3 linked regions of the Homo sapiens genome follow. The protein of the gene in region 1 interacts with the protein of each later gene in a biochemical or structural test. Each region holds a gene or a part of one and is shown in the gene's direction. Other genes may lie near its edges.

What was found. The genes of interacting proteins can lie anywhere in the genome.
Region 2: of the proteins of STK38 (region 1) and SENP2, one has a biochemical effect on the other in vitro, tested with the Homo sapiens proteins (one study listed by BioGRID).
Region 3: the proteins of STK38 (region 1) and TRIM25 form a complex in vitro, tested with the Homo sapiens proteins (one study listed by BioGRID).

The regions. Positions count from the first base shown.
Region 1 is NC_000006.12:36,544,468-36,552,369, reverse strand, and holds the start of STK38 (serine/threonine-protein kinase 38), read left to right. Parts: upstream 1-4,890; 5' UTR 4,891-5,180; intron 5,181-7,084; exon of another isoform or gene 7,085-7,902. UniProt on the Homo sapiens protein: Serine/threonine-protein kinase that acts as a negative regulator of MAP3K1/2 signaling. Converts MAP3K2 from its phosphorylated form to its non-phosphorylated form and inhibits autophosphorylation of MAP3K2.
Region 2 is NC_000003.12:185,610,278-185,617,300, forward strand, and holds part of SENP2 (sentrin-specific protease 2), read left to right. Parts: intron 1-1,373; coding exon 1,374-1,468; intron 1,469-2,329; coding exon 2,330-2,381; intron 2,382-3,067; coding exon 3,068-3,131; intron 3,132-4,286; coding exon 4,287-4,463; intron 4,464-7,023. UniProt on the Homo sapiens protein: Protease that catalyzes two essential functions in the SUMO pathway.
Region 3 is NC_000017.11:56,897,044-56,904,066, reverse strand, and holds part of TRIM25 (E3 ubiquitin/ISG15 ligase TRIM25), read left to right. Parts: intron 1-2,488; coding exon 2,489-2,648; intron 2,649-4,886; coding exon 4,887-4,952; intron 4,953-7,023.

The DNA.
Region 1 (7,902 bases):
TTTTCAAGTCTGTACATGTATTACTTTGATAAAAATAAAAACTTAATTAAAAGGTTATGGGGTCCAGTGTAGAAAATTTGGAAAGTACAGAAAAGTATAAAGAAGAAAATATAACCACTCACAATTCCTCCACTCAGAGAAAGCCACTGGGTATATTTTAGAGGAACAAGATTAAATGAATTTGTGAGATTAAATAGAGCTTGAAGATTTAAAACATCACAATTTAGATATAAATGAACAAATAACAGTATAATACCGCATATGTGTAGATATAATTACATACAATATAAGCATATATACTATGATTCCATGCATTTATATGTGTATTAGAAAGTAGTCTCAGCTGGACACAGTGGCTCATGCCTGTAATCCCAGCACTTTCAGAGGCCAAGGTGGGAGGATTACTTGAATCCAGGAGCCTAGCATGGGCATCATAGGGAGACCCCATCTCTTCAAAAAATTTAAAAATTAGCCAGGTGCGGCAGTGCATGTCTGTAGACCAGCTACTTGGAAAGCTGAGGCAGGAGGATCACTTGAGCCTGGGAGGTTGAGCCTGCAGTGAGCCATGACTGTGTCACTGCACTCCAGCCTGGGCAACCCAGTGAGACTCTTTTAAAATACACACACACGGCCGGGCACGGTGGCTCACGCCTGTAATCCCAGCACTTTGGGAGGCTGAGGCGGGTGGATCATTTGAGGTCAGGAGTTTGAAACCAGCCTGGCCAATATGGCGAAATCCCCTCTCTACTAAAACTGCAAAAATTAGCCAAGCATAGTGGTGCACGCCTGTAATCCCAGCTACTCGGGAGGCTGAGGTAGGAGAATCTCTTGAAGCCGGGAGGTGGAGGTTGCAGTGACCCAAGATCACATCAGTGCACTCCAGCCTGGGTGACAGAGCGAGATTCCGTCTCAAAAACAAAACAAAACAAAACAAAACACACACACTCATGCACACTAGTCTCAAGGCCAGGTGCAGTGGCTCACACCTGTAATCCCAGCACTTTGGGAAGCTGAGGCAGGCAGATTGCTTGAGCTCAGGAGGTCAAGGCTGCAGTGAGCTGTTATCGCACCACTGCACTATAGCCTAGGTGACAGAGCGAGACCCTGTCTCAGAAAGAAAAAAAAAAAGATAGTCTGGAGGAATACCCACCAAAATATTACTTGGTGGTTATGTTACCAGGGTGGGACCAGGCTAAGGCAAGCAAGGTTCCTAGGACACTCAATGTAAGGCTGCCTTCACTCTCAGGGTTCTGCAAATGCAGGAGTAGAACCTGAAAGTGAGTGTCTTCTTAAATGTTATGCCCTCACATGCTTCACCCTAGTCTTGGCCTTGGTTGGGACCTACGGCTGCTGGATTATGGGCACTTTCTCCTTCTTACTTTTTACTTGGATATATGTTCAAGTTCCTTGCTACTCTAAGTGTAGTACATGGACCAGCAGTGATAGCATCATCTGGGGGCTTGTTTGAAATGCAGTATCTCAGCTCTGCCCCAGACTTTAGCCAGATCTGCTCTTTAACCAAATCCCAGGAGATTTATGTGCATGTTACAGTTTGAGAAGCACTGGGCTAGCAGGCACCCAAGCATAGTTCCTGTCTTCTTATGAAAGGAATATTCAGAGGCAATTGATGCCACTGCCCCAATAGGTGGGGCACACACTGCTAAGGGGTAAGATGCCTGTTTTTAAAAAGAGTTGTGGTTCTTTCCAAGTGGCTCAGTTTTGGCTGGTGAAGCAATCATAGGTCAGCTTGATAAAGGAGAGGCAGGTGATTCCCTTGGAACAAAGAACGGGTGAGTTGAGCAAGTGAGCAAGACACTCACCTTGGGCACAAAAAACTCAGTAATCAAGATAAAGACCATTTTAATGCAAGGTTTTTCAAAAATCAAAATTAATGCAAAAAATCCACGATGAATAAAACATCGAAATTTAAAATAAAGCTCGACTCACTGTGTAAGGTGGTTCATGCCTGTAATCCCAGCACATTGGGAGGCTGAGGTAGGAGGATCACCTGAGAACAGGAGTTTGAGACCAGCCTGGGCAACATAGTGAGGCCTGACTCTACAAAAAACTAGCCGATCAAGGTCGTACGCACCTTTGTTCCCAGCTACTCACAAGGCTGAGGTAGGAGGATTGCTTGAGCCCAGGAGTTCGAGGCTGCAGTGAGCTATGATTGTGCCGCTGCTCTCCAGCCTGGGTGACCCCAGCCTGGGTGACCCCGTCTCAAAAAACAAACAAACAAACAAACAAACACGGGGATGTGACAACATCAAAATTATGCAGGTCAGATCTTTCTAATTTCCAACTCACAGTCTGGGATGGGTATAAGTGATTTCAGTTTTGGTGATAGGAAAGGGATTCAGATGCTCAAGTGGCCAAAAAGAATGACAAACGTCCATTATAGTTATTGGAATCTTGGTAAAATGTCACCTTTTGGGTTCCTGCAGAAAGAGCAGCATAATTTGGCTGGGCTGTTTTGAGGAAAACTTTAGTGCTTATTTGAGTTGTGGTACAGATAAATTAATATAGGAGGAAAGGGCCGGGTGCGGTGGCTCACGCCTGTAATCCCAGCACTTTGGGAGGCGGAGGTGGGCAGATCACGAGGTCAAGAGATAGACAGCATCCTGGCCAACATGGTGAAACCCCATCTCTAGTAAAAATACAAAAAAAAAAGGCCGGGCGCGGTGGCTCACGCCGGTAATCCCAGCACTTTGGGAGGCCGAGGCGGGCAGATCACAAAGTCAGGAGATCGAGACCATCCTGGCTAACATGGTGAAACCCCGTCTCTACTAAAAATACAAAAAATTAGCCGGGCTTGGTGGCGGGCGCCTGTAGTCCCAGCTACTCGGGAGGCTGAGGCAGGAGAATGGTGTGAACCCGGGAGGCGGAGCGTGCAGTGAGCAGAGATCGCGCCACTGCACTTCAGCCTGGGCAACAGAGCAAGACTCCGTCTCAAAAAAAAAAAAGAAGAAGGAGAAGGAGAAGGAGAAGGAGAAGAAGAAGAAGAAGAAGAAGAAGAAGAAGAAGAAGAAGAAGAAGAAGAGGAAGAAGAAGAAGAAGAAAAGATTAGCTGGGCATGGTGGCACGTGCCTGTAGTCCTGTAGTCCCAGCTACTAAGGAGGCTGAGGCAGGAGAATCACTTGAGCCTGGGAGGTGGAGGTTGCAGTGAGCCGAGATCGTGCCACTACACTCCAGCCTAGTGATAGAGCGACACTCCGTCTCAAAACAAAACAAAAACAACCCCCCTCCCCCCACCAAAAAAAACATATATATAAGAGAGAAGAGAGAGTGAAATTCCTCTTCTGAAACTGGGAAAGTTCCAGGAGGAAGATAAGGTTTGAGCTGGGCTTTGGAAGGAGGAAAGAGAAGAGGAGAAAGAACATTGGATTTGCAGACAGAAAATGGGGTTCCCCTCTTGGCTACTTGGCTTACTAGCCGTGGGAATTCAGACAAGTCACTTAGCTTCTCTAAGTATCAATTACTTCATCTGCAAAACCTCGTGTGTCACTGCCAAAGTGAGGACCAAGTGAGATTAAATAAGTGAAAGTTGTTTGTAAACTGTAAAGCATTATGCAGACATCTTGGACTATTATTAAAAGCTTAAGAATGGGTAGGACTTTGACAACAGGCATTTGGGGAGAAGGGCCTCTGGGCAGAGAGAATGAAAGGCGAAGTGATTGATTGATATGTATGTAGTGACTGATTGAGACAGGGTCTCCCTCCGTTGCCCAGGCTGGGGTGCAGTGTCATGATCATGGCTCATAGCAGCCCTGAACTCCTGGACTCAATCAATCCTCCTGCTTCAGCCTCCACAGTAGGTGGGACCACAGGCACTTGCCACCATGCTGGCCAATTACAAAAATTTTTTTAGAGGTGGATTCTCCTTATGTTGCCCAGACTGGTCTCAAACTCCTAGGCTCAAGCTATCCTCCCACCTGGACCTCCCAAAGTGCTGGAATTACAGGCAGGAGCCACCGCGCCTGGCGAGAAGTGATTTTTGTTAAGAGGCTAGACAAAAGGAAACTGGGCTTTGAAGATGAAATGAATGAATAACTCGCAGCACATGCTTCCTTCTCTCCCTAGATGGCCCCTTTGCAGGCAGTCAGGGACCATGTCTCGTTCATCTTAGTTTCCAGGAGCTTGACACTTTGTAGTTGAGGGCTTTGTGCTCCATTCTCAAGAAACGACAAGTGCCCAAAGGCTATTAAACTTGGGACCTCTTTACCCCCAAAAGTAGTACAGAATAAGAGTTGGGTGGCCTTGAAAAGCACCTTCTTCTGTCCACACTGGGTCGCCCGCTGGGTAACCTCCCAAACCTATGAGAGCTCACCTTATCCCAGGTAAGGTCCTTACTTTAAGGAAGAGGAGGGGGGCCAAGGGCTCCAGCAGACCTGTTCTACACGGGGTAGGGGGGTGGGTGGGAACTATACAGGTGACAACATTTCATAGAACTACACACACACTCACACACACGCACATGACTGCATACCCAACAGGTTAAATCCGAGTGTGGTCTGTAATGAAGTTAATTGTATTGGTTTAGTTAATTGTATTGGTTTAGTTAATTGTATTGTGCGAATGTCAATTTCCTGGCTTTGAGAATGTTGTATCTTAAGAAAAATGTTGAGGTAAGCTGGGTGGGTGATGGTATAGGGAACCTGTATGTATTAATTTTGCAACTTCTTGTGAGTCCATAATTATTTCGAAGTAAAAAGTAAAACAAAAGAAAACAATGGAACTTCCCCCTCAGCCCAGCCTACTTCGAGACCGCCTCACACTCACACATCTGGCCTCACCCAGGTCCAGCCAGCCCTAGGCAGGGGGTGAAGGGAGGGGCAGGGCGGGGCCACGCAAGCGCAGTTCCGCAATCCCGGCCGCTCCGGGAAGTCGCGCATGCGTAGTCTCGGCCCCGGGCTGCCGCGCCAGCCCGTCTCCGCGGCGGGGGACCGGGCTGCCTTGGCCCCTCAGCGCTCGCGTCTTTTCCGGCAGTTGGAACGCTTCCTGTTGTCCTCACCCGTAACCGCCTGTTGCCCCCTGTCTCAGAGTCCCTCACGCGTCCCCTCCCGTCTTTGGCTCGTTGGCTGCCGCCGCCGGGGCTTCGCCAGCCTTCAAGTCGAGACTACTGGCCGAAGGGGCGTCTGCGGCTCTCCGCCGTCCCCAGCCCTGCCTCTCCCTGGGCTCTGGTGAGTTGCTTGCTGCCGCCGTCTTCACTCCATCCCGGGGTTTTTCCTTTATCTCCTCCTTCCCCAACCTCCGACTCCTTCTTGGGCTTTCTCCTGCTCGCCGGCGCCCTCTTTCAAGCCCTAACCTCTCAGCCTCTTGGCCTCTCTCCGCCCCTCTCCTTAACCCCCTTCTTCCCCCGTCTCCAGATGCCCCTTGTTGGCCCTCTCCACATTTTTCCAGTCCCAGCCTTTCCACCCCATCCTTTATCTTTCTCCTTTTGCAGTTGGAGCGGGAGCCAGGCTTTCCTTTCCATGTTGCCACCTTTGTCTGCTCCCTGCCACCAGTCAGTCCCTCAGGGATCTCGGTCATCACCGGTTTTTATCTCCTTTTCCTTCTTCTGGGGTCTGTGAACTGTGGTCTGAGGCAGAGATGTCGAAAGCCCCCCTTGGGGTGTGGTATCTTTGAGTCGGCTCCTTTCTCCGTTAGTCTTAGGATACTGGGCTTCAGATAAGCTTCAAATCACAGGAAAAGGCAGGGAAAATTCTTAAGAAGAGAGTGGAAAAGCAACAGCCAGAGGAAAAAGTCGGTAAGGGCTTAGAGGAAAGTCTGTGTCAGAAAGCGGGCAGAACGGCCGGCAGAGAGACCAGATCTCTCAGTTCATTCTGAAACGACTAAAAGACTCGGAGAGAAACTTGTTCTGTTTGAAATGCACCGAGGAGGGTTGGAGTGAAGTAGACCCTGAGTGTCTCCACCCTTTGAGCTCACCCTGCCTCTGAATTAGCCAGGCAATATATTTGGTTTCCCTAAACATAAAACAACCACCACCTCGATAACAGGCTCTCCTCCCCACCCTAAACGTTAGATACCAGCTTCCTCCTAAGAGGAGAGAACGCTATAGCAAACCATTTCATGTCCCAGCCCTATCCCCCATCACACATAAACTCCTAGGAATGGACATCAAAAATGAGTATATTTCCTAGTTAATCTTTCTTAAGGTGCTAAGTGCATAGCACTGTGCATGAAATGGGGGAAGAATATTAAAACAAGTATAAGACATGGTGCTTGCTTTCTAGTGTAGGTAGAGATTACAGTTTAGTAGGATTTACAGTTCAGTGGGAGAGATTAGACATGCGACTTAAGCAATAATCTTAGCTCCAATGTTGAATCGTCCAAATGAAAGATAATGGATTGTCAGTCGCAAAGAAATAAAGTCCATATTGTTGAGAGAGGGTTGTTTATAGTGATCACAGAGTACCATTGTAAAGTCAGTCAGTTAGCCAGGCATAACCATATAGATTGAATCACATAATGGTTTTCATTTGACTTCCTTTTGAGTTTGCAGGCCTTACACCTGACTTTTATGAGGATCAGTTCCTTTTGTTAATTTTTTAAAACTTTGAAGAATTCCTCAGCCACCTATTATTTCCTAATTCTTCAGAGTTGAAGAATGAAACAAATGGGGCAAAGGCCTCCAATGGCTTCTAGGTCAGGGCAGGAAGGCTTGAATTGTGGAAAGCCTGATGGATAGTCCTGTCTTAAGAAAAGTTGGTTGACCCAGTAAATCTATGAATTGCTATAGGGCAATATTAATTACATCTTTTGATTAAAGGATATTAGAATTAGGCTAAATTTTTTATATTACAATAGAGGAAGTGGAGGAGGGTTTAAAGAAAGGTCAAAGGGAAGGAGAGTGCAGTCTTTATCATTATATTAGAAACTCTAAAAGTTGAAAAACACTCTGCTTAAGAATTTGTTGGTCTAATATTTGAGCATCTTTGAGTTCATTTAATGTCCTTTTGATCTTTTTAAAAGTTTAGGTAGTAATGCAAGCCAGCTACTTAAATTAGTCAAAGCATTTTTGATATATCCATCAGTGTAAATGTAGTCTTTATTCTTTTTTTTTTTTTTTTTTTTTTTTTTCCAGACGGAGTCTCACTCACCCAGGCTAGAGTGCAGTGGTGTGATCTTGGCTCACTGCAACCTGTGCCTCCAGGGTTCAAGCGATTCTCCTGCCTCAGCCTCCCAAGTAGCTGGGATTACAGGTGCCCACCACCACACCCGGCTAATTTTTTTTGTATTTTTAGTAGAGACAGGCTTTCACCATGTTGGCCAAGCTAGTCTCCAACTCCTGACTTCAGGTGATCCACCTGCCTCAGCCTCCCAAAGTTCTGGGATTACAGGCATGAGCCACCGTGTCCGGCCATCTTTATTCTTTAGCTTTGTTGACAACTAAAAATCATTAACTTACTCAACTGCCTGTTATATGGAAGGCACTGTTTGCCTTAGGGTTAAATACTAGCAGATTGTTGTGTTGTGTTTGTTGTTGTTGTTGTTGTTTTTAAGACAGAGTCTTGCTCTGTCCCAGGCTGGCGTGCAGTGGCACAAGCCAAACTCACTGAAACCTCTGCCTCTCCAGCTCAAGCAATCCTCCCACCTCAGCCTCCTGAGTAGCTGGGACTACAGGTGTGTGCTACCACACCTGGCCAATTTTTTGTATTTTTTTGTAGCAACGGGGGTTTTGCCATGTTGCACAGGCTGGTTTCAAGCAATCTCCTACCTCTCCCTCCCAAAGTGCTGAGATTACAGGGGTGCACCAGTGCCCTGGCAAATTGTTACATTTTTATGTTGAAGTAATTTCAGTTGTTAAAATGTAACTACATATATGCAATTTCTTCAGGAATTTTCAGACAAGGAAGTACAAAACTCTCACTTGCTTTTGACATGTTTTTACATCTGGTTTTT
Region 2 (7,023 bases), on another chromosome or scaffold:
AGCCTCCTGAGTAGCTGGGATTACAGGCGTCCACCGCCACGCCCAGCTAATTTTTTGTATTTTTGGTAGAGATGGGGCTTCACCATGTTGGCCAGGCCGGTCTCGAACACCTGATCTCAGGTAGTCCACCAGCCTCAGCCTCCCAGAGTGCTGGGATTACAGGCGTGAGCCACCGCACCCGGCCTACTATCTAGCTTTTGAATGCAGAAATAACAGATTGTTTGCGAATAATCAGTTGTGAACTTTAAAAAAAAATTCTTTTGGTTTAGTCAGAATGTCAGTATTTTCTCCATTTTGACCAGCCATATGTTGGAAACAGCAGTATGTTTAACGAACTCTTAACTTTGTCATGTTGGCGAAACCCTCAAACTATTTTTGCTTTTTAAAGTTGCTGCTTTGGCTGGGCACAGTGGCTCACACCTGTAATCCCAGCACTTTGGGAGGCCGAGGTGGACGGATCACGAGGTCAGGAGATCAAGATCATCCTGGCTAACACGGTGAAACCCCATCTCTACTAAAAAATACAAAAAATTAGCTGGGCATGGTGGCTGGCACCTGTAGTCCCACCTACTCGGGAGGCTGAGGCAGGAGAATGGCGTGAACCCGGGAGGCGGAGCTTGCAGTGAGCAGAGATTGTGCCACTGCACTCCAGCCTGAGCTACAGATCGAGACTCCGTCTCAAAATAAATAAATAAATAATTAAAGTTCCTGCTTCTGGCTGGGTGTGGTGGCTCACACCTGTAATCCCAGCGCTTTGGGAGGCCGAGGCAGGTGGGTCACTGGAGGTCAGGACTTCGAGACCAGCCTGACCAACATGGCGAAACCCCATGTCTACTAAAAATACAAAAATTAACCAGGTGTAGTGGCGTGTGCCAGTAATCCCAGCTACTTGGGAGGCTGAGGCAGGAGAACCACTTGAACCTGAGAGGTAGAGATTTCAGTGAGGCCATGATCACACCACTGCACTCCAGCCTGGGCGACAGTGCGAGACTCCGTCTCAAAAAACAAAAAGTTCTTGCTTTTAATGTATTGTTTCAGGATCCATTTAAATACATAGCTTAAAAAGTTTTTTATCTTTTAATCTGAGTTTTATCACACTGAGATTTTTCAGTTAGTGCATCACTGGGGATTCAGAACCTCTGATTTTACAAACAGAGAAACTGGAGGTTAGGTGACCTGGCTGAAATATTATTAGAATCATGATTAGACTCCTTTTATCCTAGTCCCACATAGTTGCTTCCTTTCTGTTGTAATTTGATATAATAGTGTAATCAATCACCCCTATTTGGAGAAGCTTGCTGGACAGAGATAATGCATATTAATGGTAGACTTTGCTTTTGTATCTGATCTCCCTCACTTTTTGTGTTTCTAAGTTCTCAAAGAAGTCAGATGGACACATTAAAGACCAAAGGCTGGGGGGAAGAGCAAAATCACGGAGTCAAAACAACTCAGTTTGTTCCAAAACAATGTGAGTTCCCAGATTTAGCCTTGTCTTAATATATTGACCTTAGTTCATGCTACAGTGTTCATATGAGGTAGAAAATTGACATTCAAGTGTAGATGGTGTACCAAAATACTGTCAAATCTCACAGCATTGGGCCGGGCGCGGTGGCTTACGCCTGCAATCCCAGCACTTTGGGAGGCCAAGGCAGATGGATCACCTGAGGTCAGGAGTTCAAGACCAGCCTGGCGAACATGGTAAAACCCCATCTCTACTAAAAATACAAAAATTAGCCAGGCATGGTGGCACTTGCCTGTAATCCCAGCTACTCAGGAGGCTGAGGAAGTAGAATTGCCTGAACCTGGGAGGTGGAGGTTGCAGTGAGCCAAGATCACGCCACTGCACTCCAGCCTGGGTGACAGTGAGACTCTGTCTCAAAAAAAAAAAAAAAACCTCACAGCATTGACTGGGGCTTATCTAGGAATTTAGTAGAAAAGCTGTTTCAGGGTGAAGTAGATTCATAACATGGCTCTGGATTATTATTCCTAAGCTGCTAGATAGTAGCAACTATTTTGTGAGCTGAAATTTTATTATATTCCTTATATAACAATTTCCTTATACTTCTCCACTTACTGTCCACTAAATGACAGCTTACCAGATAAGCAGATATCACTCAGTTTATAGTAAAGATTATATTTAAACAGCAAAGATATGTATGCATTTTTTTAGGCAACTTAGTATATAGGGAGGCTAGTGTCTTTGGAATTCACTGTAGCATTTCAATGTAGAGGAATGTCTTGATGTTGTGGAAACTCTGTAAGCTGAAATTCTAACTATATTATTCATCGATGAAGGAAACATTTAATCTTTTCTTTACCATCCTCACAGATAGACTTGTTGAAACAAGGGGACCTCTATGTTCATTGAGAAGTGAAAAGAGGTACGTACATTCAGTTCATTCTACACTTTCTTTTAATATATATTTTCTTACTTTATAAGCTGTATTTATGAGTAAGCAGTTCTGAGGAATTGTGAACTCTCTTGAGTTCTGGTAGTTGGTCAGCATATAGGGTAGATAGGTAGCTAGCTGTTGTGTCAGATGCCCACCCTAGCCTGGTGGGTTGAGGGGGGTGCCCCTTATCTCCCAGGCGTCAGGGGTTGGGAGAAACACATGCTTCTTAGATGGGAGTTTGGTTGGAGTGGGGATGTCTAGTGTCAGTGTCTTTAGGATAGGAACAGTAAAGGCAGCTCTGCATGCTTTAGGATTTTGGGATGATGGTTTATAGCAGAGTTTGTAAACTATGGCCCATGGGCCAAATCTGGTCTACTTGCCTATTTTTGTATAGTAAATTTCTATTGGAACATGCGAATTCATTTACATACTGTCTGGCTGCTTTTAAATTACAGTGGCAGAGTTGCCACGATGTGCCCAAGACCATAAAACCTGCAAAGCCTAAAATACTGTCTGTTCCTTTTCAGAAAAGTTCGTTGACTCCTGGTTTAGAGTATTATGTAAACTCAACACAATTTTTATGTACAAATTACGAAATCTTATTTCTAAAACTAGGATGTACTAGGTTTGAATCATCTAGCAGAAGTCTATCATCTCTCAATTTTTTTCCTTAGGTGTTCAAAGGGGAAAATTACTGATACAGAGACGATGGTCGGAATCAGATTTGAAAATGAAAGTGTAAGTAAAAATCCTAGTTACATTTGATACCTGTTTACTTATGTAACTTATGTTTTGGTGCCCATGAAAAGCAAGAAAAAGTATATATATATAACTTTGATTGTTAATTCTGTTGTTTTTCTTTAAAAAAGCAGCAAGCCAGCCAGTCACAGTGGCTCATGCCTGTAATCCCAGAACTTTAGGAGGCCAAGGCAGAAGGATCACTTGAGCCCAGGAGTTTGAGACCAGCCTGGGCAACATAGTGAGACTGTCTCCACAAAAAAATTTAAAAGTTAGCCAGGCATGGTGGCATGTCTGTAGTCCCAGCTACTTGGGAAGCTAAGGTGGGAGGATTGCTTGAGCCCAGGAGGTCAAGGCTGCAGTGAGCTGTGATCACACCATAGCACTCCAGCCTAGGTGACAGAATGAGACTCTGTCTCAAAAAAAAAAAAAAAAAAAAAGGCAGGAAGCATTGAAAATACACAACTTTTTTCTTCCTTCTGAGTTGTTGGAGTTTTGCCTCTGTACAGTAGCCACCTTTGTTTATGAGAGACCAATCTGCCTCCATACCAACATGTTACCTACATTTTATGGCTTCTTAGGGAGAATTTCTTAAAAATCATACATCTCTGGAAAGAGATGATATGTTCTGGGTTGCTGGCAGAATTCTATTTGTTTACTACAATTGTGGTTATATAGGTGTTCATTCAAATTAAGTGGTACATTAATGTTTTGTGCATTTTCTGTAATATCAAATGACTTTTTTCAAGGATAAACTAGAACCAAGTTGAGTTACTATAAAGATAGTAGGGATTTATTCTGAGTGATGGGATTGTGGGTCATATTTTTTGCTGTTTAAAACTTTCATAATATCTTTTAAACATACTAATTTTAATTGTGATAGGAGAACTGAAAATACTTTTCTTGCTACTTCCAGGGAAGGTGGTGAGTGTTCTGTTTGATGGTTCATAACTGAGGGTCCTGTGAGGCCTAGGTCTGGAGCTTTTTTTGCTCCCCCTTGCAGGGACAGACAGATAGGGTAAATCTACTCACTTGGGGGATTTGCTAATTCTCTTTTCTTTCACATTAGTGGCAGTTTTATATTTCATGTGTAATCTGTGTTTATATTTGCAAGTATCAAACATGTCAGTAGAATTTAGATAATTTTTTGATCAGAGGAGGGGATACCAACTGGAGCCTGACCTATCAGAAGAAGTGTCGGCCCGACTCCGCCTGGGCAGTGGAAGCAATGGCTTACTCAGGAGGAAAGTGTCAATAATTGAGACAAAGGAAAAGAATTGCTCAGGCAAAGAGAGGGACAGAAGAACGGACGATCTCCTTGAACTTACAGAGGTATTGTTCTTTGTATTGATCCTAAAAAGAGGCATGTCTTTAAATAACCTCAGTTATTCTAACTTGAATGTTTTGTTTTGAGGACTTTCTCCAGGCTAGGGGTGAATATATGAAAACATGTCAGGTCCATGGTCTGTTGATTCACTTTGACTACATTGATCTTTAGTGAGGCATGATCATTAGTGGCCTAAGGGATCAGATTGATATTCAGCAAATGGGGAGTCGACACAGTCATCTCATATCTTGGAATACAACAGATTCTTTGTAAATTCTAACCTTCAAATATGTTGAGTTATATAGTATGGGTTTGGCATTAAGAATAAGTTCATTGCATTTTTTTTTTGAAAGTTATTATAGTTTACTAAAATGCCCCCTTTGTTGATTATTGCATTTGAAAATAGTAAAAACTTACAGAACATAAAGAATGAAGGTAGTTAAAATTCTTATTTTAAAGATGTGCCCACATCTTGGCTTCCTCCACAATGTTGCCCTAGTAGGCAAATCTCTTGAATACTTACTGTTATATTGGGCATGTAGGTGGAGAGAGAGATCCATAAAATGGTGAAGCTGTGTGCAGTGGGAAGCAGCATATATTTAGAAGAAAATAATTTCTTTTTTTTGAGACAGAGTTTCGCTCTTGTTGCCCAGGCTGGAGTGCAATGGCGCGATCTTGGCTCACTGCAACCTCTGCATCCTGGGTTCAAGTGATTCTCCTGGCTCAGCCTCCCTAGTAGCTGGGATTACAGGCACCTGCCACCATGCCCAGCTAATTTTTGTATTTTTAGTAGAGACCGGGTTTCACCATGTTGGCTAGGCTGGTCTCGAACTCCTGACCTTAGATGATCTACCCACCTCGGCCTCCCAAAGTGCTGGGATTATAGGCGCAAGCCACTGCCCCCGGCCTAGAGGAAAATAATTTCTATTGGGTTTATAGATTTAGTTTTGTATCTTAAATAATGCATTTATCTGCATAATTCTTTAGTATGATGAAGCCATTTATTCCATAAGGAGTCAATTGCTAGACTGCTGGGTGGTTTCCAAGTTTCTGCCTGTTTGCTTATTCTCTTCATGTCAAAAAGGATGGTGTGACCCCTTAGATGTCCTAATCTTATTTTGATGTTTTATTTATTTATTTATTTTTGAGATAGAGTCTCGCTCTGTTGGCAGGCTGGAGTGCAGTGGCACAATCTCAGCTTACTGCAACCTCTGCCTCCCAGGTTCAAGTGATTCTTCTGCCTCAGCCTCCTGCGTAGCTGGGACTACAGGCGCGTGCCACCACGCCCAGCTAATTTTTGTATTTTTAGTAGAGATGGGGTTTCACCATGCTGGCCAGGCTGGTCTCGAACTCCTGACCTCATGATCCGCCCGTCTTGGCTTCCCAAAGTGCTGGGATTACAGGCGTGAGCCACCACACCCAGCCTTTTTTGATGTTTTAAAAGTTTAAAGGCGAGAATGGGCGTGGTGGCTCACGCCTGTAATCCCAGCACTTTGGGAAGCCAAGATGGGCGGATCATGAAGTCAGGAGTTCGAGACCAGCCTGGCCAGCATGGTGAAACCCCGTCTCTACCAAAAATACAAAAAAATAGCTGGCATGGTGGTGTGCACCTGTAATTCCAGCTAATCAGGAGACTGAGGCATGAAAATTGCTTGAACCTGGGAGGCAGAGGTTGCAGTGAACTGAGATCATGCAGCTGCATGCACTCCAGCCTGGGTGACAAAGTGAGAATCTGTCTCAAAAAAAAAAAAAAAAGAAGGGCCAGGCTGGTGGCTCACACCTGTAATCCCAGCACTTTGGGAGGCCGAGATGGGCAGATCACGAGGTCAGGAGATCGAGACCATCCTGGCTAACACAGTGAAACCCCGTCTCTACTAAAAATACAAAAAATTAGCCGGGCGTGGTGGCGGGCGCCTGTCATCCCAGCTACTCGGGAGGCTGAGGCAGGAGAATGGCGTGACCCCGGGAGGCGGAGCTTGCAGTAAGCCGAGATGGCGCCACTGCACTCCGGCCTGGGAGACTGAGCGAGACTCCGTCTCCAAAAAAAAAAAAAAACGTTTAAAGTGGAAATCAGGAGTTTACTATTATGAAGGGAGCAAAGTCCAGGAAATTAGATGCACCTGGGTTCAAATCTTCTTCTACCTTTTAATAATTATATGACTTTGAATATGTAAAATAAATTCTCTGGGTTTCAATTTTCTTCTCTATAAAATGATAATAATGTCTTCCTCACTAATATGGATCAATGATGTGCTTCAAGCATCTAACACCATGTTTGACTCATAGTGGTTAATACGTAGTAGTAGGAAAATTGAGACTATACTTTAGATGTAAATATTATTATTAAATTATTGTTTCCACAAGCTAATAAGTGAACCAGGATTTGTTGTAAGTATTACTTACAACAATTAAGTAAGGCTGCTTTGTAGTTATAAGTTAAAATATTTTCAGGGCTGGTGCAGTGGCTCATGCCTATAATCTCAGCACTTTGGGAGGCCAAGGCAGGTATTGCTTGAGCCCAGGAGTTTGCAACCAACTTGGGCAATATAATGAGGCCCCATCTCT
Region 3 (7,023 bases), on another chromosome or scaffold:
ATATTTATTCTCTCAGAGTTTCTCTGGCTCAGGAATCTGGACATGGCTTTATGGGTGGCCTGCATAGGGTCTCACCAGGCTACAGTCTGCGAGGGATGGCCAGGCTGTTTCCTTTGGAGCTCAGGGTTGTCTTCCAGGCTCATGTGGTTGTTGGCAGAATTTAGTTCCTTATGGTTGTAGGACTGAGGCCCCCCGCAATTTCCTGCTGGCTGTCTCTCAGATTGATAGCTGACTTCTTCAAGGCCAGCATGAGAATTTCTCCTCTAGAAAGATGCAATCCCTCTTTTAAGGTCTTTTACCTGATTAAGTCAGGCCCACCCCAGATAATTGCCCTTTGATGAACTCAAAATCAATTGATTTGAGATGCTAATTACACCAGCAATATTCCACCCCCTTTGCCACATGACATAACCTAATCACAGGAGTGATATCCTATTTCATTCACCGTCCTGCCGATACTGAAGGGGAGGGCATACTATAGGGTATGTACATCAGTCGGGGTCGGGGGCTTGAGGGCCATCTTAGAACGTTGCCTGCCACTCACACTCCACCTCTTCCTCCCATCCTTCCTCCAGCAGCTCCTGGAAGTGTGTGTTAGTAGTCCCTTTTGCATTGCTATAAAGGAGTACCTAAGACTGAGTTATTTATTTATTTTATGTATTTATTTTGAGATGGAGTTTCACTCTTGTTGCTCAGGCTGGAGTGTAGTGGTGTGATCTTGCTCACTGAAACCTCTGCCCCCAGGCTCAAGTGATCCTCCTGCCTCAGCCTCCTGAGTAGCTGGGATTACAGGCGCACGCCACCATGCCCAGCTAATTTTGTATTTTTAGTAGAGACGAGATTTCACCATGTTGGCCAGGCTGGTCTCGAACTCCTGACCTCAGGTGATCCACCCACCTCGGCCTCCCAAAGTGCTGAGATTACAGGTGTGAGCCACTGCGCCCAACCAGACTGAGTAATTTATAAAGAAAAGAGGTTTATTTGGCTCACAGTTCTACAGGTTGTACAAGCATGGCACCAGCATCTGTTTGGCTTTTAGTTAGGCCTTTGGTGAGGAAGGAAGCTTTTACTCATGGCAGAAGGTGAAGCTGGGAGCAGGCATGTCACAGGGTTAGAGAGGGAACAAGAGACAGAGGAGGAAGTGCCAGCCTCCGTTAAACAACCAGTTTGTGCAAGAACTCACCTGTTACCATGGGGAGGGCACCAAGCGGTGCATGGGGAATCCACCCCCACGACACGAACACCTCCCACCCTGCCCCACCTCCAACACTGGGAATCACATTCCAACATGAGATTTGGAGGGGACAAACATCCAGACTGTATCAAAGTATCTGTCTAAAGCATGGGCCCCCTGCTGTTTCTGGCCTCATGTCCCTTAACATGGCCTGCAGGGTCCTAGGTGACTGGGCCCCGCCTGTGCCAGCAGTCTCATCTCATATCATCCATCCCTGGCTCATGCCCTATGCACTCACTGTTCCCCAGACACAGTGGGTGTGGGTGGGATGCCATGCTGGGCATTCTTGCCTAGTGAGTCGTATCCTTCCAGGGCCTTGGATCCCATTGCCATGCCGTATCGGTGTTCCCAAGCATGCCACACTGTTTCTACAGTAACATTGGGTGATGTTGTTTCAGATGTGCATTTTTTCATGGCTGTTTTGACTGTAAGCCCATCTCTTATTACCCCCATTCATCCTCCTGCCAATCTGACCAGCACATAGCAGAGTGCTTGGCATATAGTGGTGTGCCCCATTGATTGAGTGACCTGCAGCTATACCTGAAAGACCCAGATTCCTTGTTCAGATCAGGGGGTGGGGAGACAGTGCAGGAGTGAATGGGAACCTTGTCTCTGTGCACTGAGGCCTGATGCGTGCCTAGTCTGGATGGCGTTAAGTTTCATCCCAAGTGTTCATTCCTGTCTGTTGGAGCAGCTGCCCCGAGCTCTCGAAGGATCTGAGTGCACATCTAGGCTTCTTGATACTGTACAACCCTATTTTTCTCAAAGTTTGGGACTTCCAGGAAGACCCTCCCTTCCCATAAGATATTCCCTGGCTGCAATCCACATCCCTTGAGATGTCCCTGTCTGTTACCAGAATGTGTGATTAGAGCTGTTCCCCTAGGATTGGGGTGGTCCTGAGTTTCCTGTGCTTTTCCACCTTTAGCTGGAAAAGTGGAAAGAACATTGTCCTGGGGGATCGGAAGATCTCAGTCCCAGCTGTGTCTGTGCCCCTAGCTGGTGGAGTTCCTGCCATGTCTAGACCTCAGTTTCCCCATCTGTAAGATGAGTGACCTCTGGGGTCCCCTCCAGCTCCAGATTACTGTGTCTTCAAGTGTCATTTAAACTCCTGGTGACCTCTGGCCTGTAATTTGAGAAGGCCAATTGGACTTAGCACTCTTGGGCATAGGGGAGAGCCTCCTGGGGTTGGTGAGGACTGAGCCCAGGTCCCCGTTTCACCAGAGCTGCCTGCACTAACCCCCTGGCATGTTCCAGAAAGCATCAAAACTGCGAGGAATCTCAACAAAGCCAGTCTACATCCCCGAGGTGGAACTGAACCACAAGCTGATAAAAGGCATCCACCAGAGCACCATAGACCTCAAAAACGAGCTGAAGCAGTGCATCGGGCGGCTCCAGGAGCCCACCCCCAGTTCAGGTGACCTTAGCAGCCCCCTATGCTGCCCCCTGTGGAACCCTGCAACCCGATGGGTCCCCTAAATGTTTTGGGATGGGAGATTGGGGCGTGATCCCGAGCACTGGGGCCTGAGTTTCAGGGCTCCTGAAACATCCGCCCTCTGTCTGGAGGCTGGTGGGGAGTCTGCTTCATCCTGACATTTTAGGATCTTTCCTAAAGCATTTTTGGGGACTTGATGTTAATGCTTGGACTTTCTGGACAGATAGGCTCTTTTGGCCTGTGATCTTGAGGCCAACTTGGATGGGTTTTGAATAAGCTAGGGCTTGTTATTGTGTTTGGTGGGGGAATGGCCCGTTTGGGGGAGAAATCTAGAATTCCTCTTTGACACCCCCTTTTCATCACCCCATATCCAATCCATTGCCAAATTTCACTTCTTTCAATCTCCTGACTCAGTCTGCTGATCCTAGCACTGCTTGCCTGTTCTCCATTGCCATCACCTGTCGCCCCATGACTGTAGCAGCTTCCTAAACCCTCTGCATCTGCCGCTGCAGCCAGAGAGGGATTTTCATGATGCAGAGCTCATGTCCTGGGACCTATTCTGCTTTGCCCTCTCACTAGGCTTCCTATTACTCCCTGATGCAGACCAAACCCTTGACCCTGGTCTAGATGCCAGGTCAAGCCCTGTTGGTCTCTCTCCAGCCCCAAGGCGCCCCCCACTCTCCTCTGGTGCATCTCTCTGCATTCAGTTCCTCAAATATGCAAAACTTCCTGCTACAGGGCCTTTGTGTTTGCTCTTCCCCACTCTCCAGAAGGCTTGAACTCCACCGTCTTCACTAATTAACTCCTCTCACCCTTCAAAGATCAGCAAAACATTACATTTATAGCCAGCCTCCCCTGCCACTGCTCCCACTCCTCAGACTGGGCCCAGGGTCCTTGTCATCCTCTTGGGACTCTTGCATGGGTAGTATCGCATTCTTCCTTGGGATCCCCGTATATCTCCCTCATTAGGTTGTGATCTCTGTGAGGTCAGGGGCTGCGGCTTATTTATTTATTTATTCAGGATCTTGCTCTGTCGCCCAGGCCGGAATGCAATGGCGTGATTATAGTTCACTGTAACCTCAAACTCCTGGGATTAAGTGATCCCTCTGCCTCAGCCTCCCGACTAGCTAGGACTATAGATACACACCATCATGCCCGGCTAATTAAAAAAAAATTTTTTTTTTTTTGAGACGGAGTCTCGCTCTGTCACCCAGGCTGGAGTGCAATGGCCCAATCTCTGCTCACTGCAACCTCTGCCACCCAGGTTCAAGCATTTCTCCTGCCTCAGCCTCCTGAGTAGCTGGGATTACAGGCATGTGCCACCACACCTGGCTAATTTTTGTATTTTTAATAGAGACATGGTTTCACTACTTTGGTCAGGCTAGTCTTGAACTCTCGACCTCAAGTAATCTGCCTGCCTCAGCCTCCCAAAATGCTGGGATTACAGGCGTGAGCCACCGGGCCCAGCCTAAAAAATTTTTTTTGTAGAGCCAGGGTCTCGCTAAGTTGTCCAGACTGATCTTGAGCTCCTGGCTTCAAGTGATGCTCCTGCCTTGGCCTCCCAAATCATTGGGATTACAGGCTTGAGCCACTGTGCCTGGCCTGTCTGATTTTTCTTCAACGCTATTTCCCTAGTGCCTAGCACAGAGCCTGGCCCATAGTAAATCTCTGTTGTGTAGTCCAAGATTGGGCTTGAATCTCAGCTTGGCCTGCCGAGTGTCCTTGCAGAAGGGCTTCTGAAATCGGTGGCGGTGCAGCCCCATTGTGGAAGTGCTGCGTGGGGGCAAAGCTATAGGTGGCTGGTATGTGGGAGGAGGGGAGAGAAAGAATAGTGGGAAAGGAACAAGTGTTGACCCAGCCTCCGCTACATGACCTTGATCTCATTCAGGAGTCACATCAACCATGAGCAAGGTGAAGTCATCCCCATTGTGTGCTCGAAGAAACCAAAGCTCAGAGAAGTCTCAGAGGCCACAGAGCTGGGTGCTGGTGGAAAAAAGACTTGGCCCTTGCTACATTTTAAAAAGTCAGAGAAAAAAGGGAATACACCAAACTGGTTCTTAGATCACCTTGTTTGTAGCTCTTGTAAGCGATGGGATGGGGAAGGTCGGAGGAAATGGCTGTCTGTGTAAACCCTCTGCCTGCCCACCGACCCATGGCAAAGCTGGCTGCTAGGGTCAGTGAGAGGAGCCGCACACACTGAGCCCTTCTTCTCTGACACAGGTGACCCTGGAGAGCATGACCCAGCGTCCACACACAAATCCACACGCCCTGTGAAGAAGGTCTCCAGTAAGTAGCCCCACCCCTGTCTCCATGGCAACAGCATGGCTGTGGCCTCCCCAGGCTCTGGCCAAGTCACTTCCGGCCCATCCCGAGTCACTGTGGGGCCTGGACCTCAGTGGGAAAGAAGTTGGTGGCAGTCCCCACTGCGGGGGGCTGTAGGGCTGTGGCAGAAGCTCCGCTGTCCATCAGCATTGCACGTTTGGGCTGCCTGGAACAGCAAGATGCCTGAGGCTGGCTTGTTTTGAGAAATATTTACTATACCCAAGTCCTTGGGCAGAGCCTTGGGCAAGGAGACTGATGGCGGTCCAGGAAGGGTGGAGGCTAAACCTCCTTGGCATCTCAGCAGTGTTAAGTCTCTGGGTTGTAATGGGCTTCTGCTATTACCATGTTTCTCAACTGTTTTTTTTTTTTTGGTTTCTCACTGTTACCCTCCTCCTGCTCATCCCCAGAACCATTTGAGAAAATTTTTTTCCTAATTACAACCCATGAAATTTTAATACCACCCATCTACTGCATAACTGTTTATGTTTGTGCTTTTACACATAAAAAGAGTAATCTTTTTTACTCCCCCTCCCCCAAGGATCCATTTTTGCCCTCCTAGGGGTACTATCCCCCTCATTGGGCAGGCACCTGCCATTGACATGGGGGTTGAGGAGAAGAGTGGTCCTGTTCTGCAAATGTGGACAATAGTGATATCGAGGCCACAGGATGATTCTGAGTGATGAGGGGACACTGATTGTGAGAGCTCTTTATGAGCCATATACCACTGAGATGTCCATATACCACTGAGATGTCCATATACCACTGAGATGTCCATATACCGCTGACATGTCCATATACCGCTGAGATGTTCATATACTGCTGACATGTCCATATACCGCTGAGATGTCCATATACTGCTGACATGTCCATATACCGCTGACATGTTCATATATCGCTGAGATGTCCATATACCGCTGACATGCCCATATACCGCTGACATGTTCATATACCACTGACATGTCCATATACCACTGAAATGTTAGCTGTCATTGCTTCCCTGAAAAGTTGGTGTGAACCCAGGAGGGCTGGCTGCACACTGCTGGTGTTGGGGGGATGAGAGAGCCAGGGCTTGCTCTTTGTTGTTGTTGCTTGTGCTTAGTGTTCAGGTCACCTGTAGCAGGCAGAGTGTGGTATCGGTCCCCGAATGGAACAGAGTCAGGGCTGGGATGCCTGGTGCAGATGGAGGAGGGAGCCCTTAGCTGGGCCGGAAAACCTCGAAGGGTACTTTGTGTGAAAAGAGGAGTGAAAGAGGAAGTGGAAAGGTACTGTTGACCTGTGTCCTTCCCCAGTCACCTTCCTCTGAAAGCTCCTCCCTTAGTATGAATGAGGTAGGGATGCCGGCCAGCAGGCAGGTGTGTTCCCCAGTGAGGTGAGGTCCTCATGTCACAGCAGAATGACACCCTGGAGAATAAAGTTCGGGAATGAATCAAGGCTCCTCTAGGCTGAAATGGGGAAATAGGGGAGGGGGTATGGAGTAGTCCCAGTGCAGAGAGATGTCTAAGGGTAGGTGATGAGGGAGGTGCCTGTGCCCTAGATTGATGTCACAGCCTGGGCCTCCCAAGATGCTGGTCCACAGGGAGTGGGTGGGAAAGTGGCAGAAGGGGAGGAAATGGGAGAGTGAGCGACTGTGAGTGATGTGACTTCGAAGTAGGAGAAGCGGTAGCAAGGGGGCTTTGTGGTGTGATGGGGGTCTGGGGGAGGGAGAGGGTAATAGGAGAGAGCAGGGCTTATCTGTAATGTCAGGTGTCCTGCAGGTGGGCAGGGATATGATTTCAAAAACGCCCCTTTTTGTTCCAGTGTTGTGGAAGGTGGCAAAGAAGGAAGCTGGGATCTTCTAGCCCACTTGAGTGGACTTTGGACTCACCTGGAGGGCTTGTACATCACAGATTGCTGGGTCTCACCCCCAGCCTTTATGATTCAGTGGCTCTGGCTTGGGGCCCAAGAATTTGCATTTACTATTTTTTAAGAGACAGAGTCTCGCTCTTTTGCCTAGGCTGGAGTGCAGTGGTGCGAACAGAACTCATTGCAGCCTCGA